Regions from separate parts of the Homo sapiens genome. Here region 1 is linked to region 2. A link means that fine-mapping ties the variant in region 2 to the expression of a gene that starts in the linked region. Tissue or cell type: whole blood. Region 2 holds a variant in brackets; the other region holds the start of a gene. All regions are shown on one strand. Distances are between the middles of the regions.

Region 1 (2,629 bases), 130 kb after region 2:
TTGAACATCAGCTCTATTGAACACAGATTCAATCACTATAGCCCTAAATGCTAAAACAGGACCTCACAGACAGTTTTCATTTTTATTCCGTCAAATACATCTCTTTTCCTTCATGACTTAAGACTAGTGCTTAGCACAGAATAAATGCTAAAAAAAAAAAAAATTGACTATTACTACTATAATAGTTTGCAATTATTTGTTTGTACAATCTCCCTGCCTAGACTGTGTGACCAAAGACAGAAACCCATTTATTTGGCATTTTACCAAGCCCAGGGGGGCCAGGCACAGTGGCTCAGGCCTGTAATCCCAGCACTTTGGAAGGCCGAGGAGGGCGGATCACCCGAGGTCAGGAGTTCGAGACCAGCCTGGCCAACGTGGTGAAACCCTGCCTCTACTAAAAATACAAAAATTAGGGTGTAGCGGCGCGCGCCTGTAATCCCAACTACTCGGAAGGCTGAGAAAAAGGAGAATCCCTTGAACTCCAGAGGCGGAGGTTGCAGTGAGCCAAGATTATGCCTCTGCACTCCAGCCTGGGTGACAGAGCGAGACTTTGTCTCAAAACAAACAACAACAACAAAAATCCCAGGAGTCTGGATCACATTAAGCATTAATAAGAAGTGCTGAATATAATTAGCGAATAACAATTCTGAAGAAAGTTATCTTCTTTGATACTATGGATTCCTGATGTTAAAAAAAAATTTTTAAGATAGAATATGGGACTGTCCTTCCTGCTTTTTGATTTGGTTCAAATCTGAGGAAGTGGGGGCGACCAGTCTTTAACAGATCTAGCAAGACTGTCGAGCTTTAGGGAATGGTAATTTCTCTAAAGCCAACACTCTATGTCCATTATATTGGAGATCAAAACAGACAATGGCATTTTTTCTAAAGAGGGGGAGGGAAAAACAAAACTTTTTGTCTAATTTGGGGATGCAGTCAGACGTGACTTAGTTCATAAACACACACATTCATCTGGCGCTAAACCTCACATAAGGAACCTTACCAGCTTCCTTGATAAAACAACACCCCAACACTTCAATCTAGAGATGGAGGGTAAAAATGTAGGGTTGTGATGTCTAGCTGCCCATTCCACGAGAGTCGCCCACCACGCCAAATTCGGAGGCTTGCGGTATTCACCTACGGGGAGATGGCGGGCTACCTCACCCCAGGTTTCCCCTAACACAGAGTTGCAGTCGCTGAACAAACTGCCCTGCGTTAGTCAGAAGCTGTTAAGTAACGAGATGGCCACGGTCCACAGCAGAAGAGATGGAGATAAGCCTCAAGCGGGAAAAATGAAGTGTACAAATGCCAAATGCGGAGAAAAAGAAGAAAAGCTGCAAGAAGGCAGGTCAGTCAGGAACACCGCCATTTCTCACATCTCATCGCTACTTCGAATTTTCTCATCTAAGGACCCGCACCCGCACGGTTCACACTGTCTTCTTCCCGCTATCACTCCGTGTGGGTCAAACCTCTGCCTGCCCACTGGAGAGCAGCGGGAATGGCTTCAGGAAGCGGCTGCCGCCTCCGAGACTCACCGACCTGCCGTGCTGCCACTTCTACACCGAAATGGCTGGTCCGAGGCCGCGTCTCCAGAGCTGCGTCCCAGAAGCCCCCGCTTTCGATCCCCACCGCGATGCTGCAGCCGTCCGAAAACGAGAGACGCGCAGGCGACGTCCCGGCCCCCGTAGGCGGACGGCTCCGCGACCCCCGGATGTTGATATGTCGTCTGCCCCGGAAACGGTGACAGGAGGCTCAAGGGGGCGGAGGCGGCGTTGCCGGGCTCTCCGGAAGGAGACGTGGCGGCGGTTGGGCCGGTGATACCCGGGCGCTTTATAGTCCCGCCGCCTCCTCCTCCACCTCCTCCTCCTCCTCCTCTCCTCCTGGAGCAGAGGAGGTTGTGGCGGTGGCTGGAGAAAGCGGCGGCGGAGGATGGAGGAAGGAGGCGGCGGCGTACGGAGTCTGGTCCCGGGCGGGCCGGTGTTACTGGTCCTCTGCGGCCTCCTGGAGGCGTCCGGCGGCGGCCGAGCCCTTCCTCAACTCAGCGATGACATCCCTTTCCGAGTCAACTGGCCCGGCACCGAGTTCTCTCTGGTCAGTGCCCTCACTAACCCCGCAGCCACCCCTCCTCCTGACACTAAGGGTTCGGCCTCTTCCCTCGGTTTTCTTTGCTTTTTCTCCCCAAGACCTTCTCTGCAGACTCTTACCTTCCCCAAGCCAAAGCTGCTTTTATGCAGCGTTCATTCATTCGTTCGTTCTCACGTTATGTGGATGCGTCCCCCTTGCTGAGCATTAGGGATCCAGCAATCACCTGCTCTCCACCTTTTCAATTCTGTCGCACTAGACCTTGCTTCCCAACATTCCCACCCTGCAGAAGCAGCTTTCGTAGAATAACGTCAGGTGCACTTACTCATCTTCCTTTCGGAAAATTAACTGTGGCTCTTACTTCACCAGCAGACTTCTTTCCTTCAGTATTACATGTCACCCTGCCCACACCACAGTACTTCAGACTCGAGTTCCCTCTCTCGTATTCGTTCTCCCTCAGTTGTATACACACACGGACATACGCAAACGCACAGCTCCAAGGGAACTTTTTCCTTTCCTAGTTGTTTCTGAGAGGGCTATTTGGCCTGTG
Region 2 (2,764 bases):
TTATGGGACCACCATTATATATGCAGTTTGTCGAACAAAACATCGTTATGTGATGCAGGACTGTATTTCTTAGCTCTGTCCACTAAGTGATTAATGATCAAACCAGTAGAAATGAGCTCCCCAATGCATGTCATGTGTATTACAGTCCATATAATAACATTTCTGAAAAAGCAAACAAAATTCTTTGCAAAAATAGGTCTGATTCCAGGTCTGAGGAGGGAAATGTACAACATAAACCTGAACTATCTTATTACCAGAACGCAAGAAAGCTAACAAAGAATACTTAAACACTAATTAAAGATAGGACAATCAATATCAATAAGAGTAATTAACTGCAATAGATTAGAAAACATCAAAAATCTATGATTATATTAATGCTGGTTGTGAAGAAAAAAACACTTATATACTGTTGGTGGGAGTGTAAATTAGTTCAACCATTGTGGAAGACAGTGTGGCGATTCCTTACAGATCTAAAGACAGAAATACCATTCGACCCAGCAATCTCATCACTGGGTATATACCCAAAGGAATATAAATCATTCTAGTATAAAGACACATGCACACATATGTTCATTGCAGCATTATTCACAATAGCAATGACATGGAACCAACCTAAATGCCCATCAATGATGACTGGATGGAGAAAATGTGGAATATATACACCGTGCAATACTATGCAGCCATAAAAAGAATGAGATCATGTCCTTTGCAGGGACACAGATGAAGCTGGAGGCCATTACCCTTAGCAAACTAATGCAGGAATAGAAAACCCAATAGCACATTTTCTCACTTGTAAGTGGAAACTAAATGATGAGAACACATGGACACATTGAGGGGAACAGCACACACCGTGGCCTATTGGAGGAAGGAGGGTGGGAGAAGGGAGAGGATCAGGAAAAGTAACTAATGGGTACTAGACTTAATACCTGGGTGGATGAAATAATCTGCATAACAAACTCCCATGACACAAGTTTACCTATGTAACAAACCTGCGCATGTACCCCTGAACTTAAAAGTTAACAAAAAGCCTATCGACCATCTTTAAAGGATATTAGAGAACTAATTCATTATTCTGAAAACTGGCAAATAAAGGAAAATAACTATTTTTTCTATACAAACCAGATCTCAGAGTAACCAAATTATCAAGGGAAATTCTTCTGTT[G/C]AAATTATCACAGCTAGTATGTAAAGAAAACTATAACGAATTAATAGATCCAGCTAGTGATCACCAATTGCTGCTAATATCACTAGGAGAGATGAAGTAACCAACATCTATGAAACAGTATGCAAGACAGAAAGTGTATGAGTATTGAATCTGAATCCGAGGAAGCCTCTACATCTAGGACTGGTTTCATAGGTGTAATCTATTCAGTTTCACAGGGCTCTGAGCTCAGAAGGGTCCCATTTTATGTTCTGCTGCCCTGTTTGGACCAGCCAAGGTGGCTCACACCTGCAATCCCAGTACTTTGGGAGGCCAAGGTGGGAGGATCACTTGAGGCCAGGAGTTTGAGACCATCCTGAGCAACATAGCGAGACCCTGTATCTACAAAAAATACAAAAATCAGCCAGGCATGCTGGTGCATGCCTGTAGTCCTAGCTACTTGGGAGGCTGAGGCAGGAGGATCCCTTGAGCCCAAGAGCTCATGAGTGCAGTGAGCTATGATTATACCCCTGCACTCCAGCCTGAGTGACAGAACAAGACCCTGTGTGAAAGAAAAAGAATTAGTTCGTTTTTACACTGCTATAAAGAACTACCTGAGACTGGGTAATTTATAAAGAAAAGAGGTTTAATTGACTCACAGTTCCACATGGCTGGGGAGGCCTCAGGAAAGTTACAATCATGGTGGAAGGCAAGGAGAGGCAAGCATCTTCTTCACAAGGTGGCAGGAGAGAGCGAGCACGAGTGGGGAAGTCCCACATTTATTTAAACCATCAGAGCTTGCAAGAACTTATGAGAACAGCATGGGGAATATCTGCTCCCACGATCCAATCACCTTCCACCAGGTCCCTCCCACAACATGTGGGGATTACAATTTGAGATGAAATTTGAGTGGGGATACAGAGCCAAACCAATGGAAGGAGGGAGAGAGGAAGAAAGGAAGGGAGGGAGGGAGTGAGGAGGGAGGGGGGGGAGTGAGGGAAGGGGGGAGTGAGGGAGGGAGGGAGTGAGGGGAGGGCAAGAAAGAAAGGAAGGGAGAGAGAAAGAGCAAGAAAGAAAAAAAAAGGAAAGAGAAGAAGAGGGGAAGGGAGGGGAGGAAGGGAAATTTGAACAACAGGTCCAACATTTTCATTTTGCACTGGGCCCAAAGTATGTTGCATTCATGTCTACATCTGACTACTAATTTACAGGAAGTAAGTGTTGTAGTTTAAAGAGCTGTCCACAAATTCTTTGATACTCCTTCCTGCCAAAAGCAAAGCCTAGTTCCTCTCTCCTTAAGTATGGGCTGTACTTTGTGATTTGCTTGAAATGAATTGAACAGATTAGAAATGATGGTGTGTGACTTCCAAGAATAGATTATAAGACACTGTGGCATCCACCTTGCTCTAAGGTCACTTGCACTGGAGTAAGCGAGCTGACATGAGAGGAGCCTCAAGCAGTTGTATGGAGAGGTGCATGTGGTGAGGGACCAAGGCCTCCAGCCAACAGCCATGTGAGTGAGCCATCTTGGAGTGGCTCCTTCTGCCCTGATCAAGCTTTTAGATCACTGCAGCCCCAGCTTACAGTTTGAATGCAACCTCATGACAGACCCTGAGTGATAACCACTCG

What was found. PIP is the estimated chance that this variant, and not a neighbour inherited with it, causes the effect.
Region 1: ASB3 starts here. The variant in region 2 is fine-mapped to the expression of ASB3 in whole blood (INTERVAL, PIP 0.94).

What each region holds. Positions count from the first base shown.
Region 1 is chr2:53,785,285-53,787,913 of GRCh38, forward strand. It overlaps ASB3 (ankyrin repeat and SOCS box containing 3), which reads right to left and starts at 1,669. Exons shown (of 10, transcript NM_016115.5): 1 at 1,537-1,669. The region is part of intron 1 of GPR75-ASB3 (GPR75-ASB3 readthrough); the gene reads right to left. ERLEC1 (endoplasmic reticulum lectin 1) reads left to right here and starts at 1,760. Exons shown (of 14, transcript NM_015701.5): 1 at 1,760-2,088. The coding sequence starts at 1,927. RefSeq lists enhancers at 1,159-1,817, 1,333-1,752.
Region 2 is chr2:53,656,770-53,659,533 of GRCh38, forward strand. No RefSeq gene overlaps it. Among named protein-coding and RNA genes, the nearest start is that of CHAC2, 110 kb to the right of the region's middle. The variant G/C (reference allele first, on the strand shown) is at 1,163.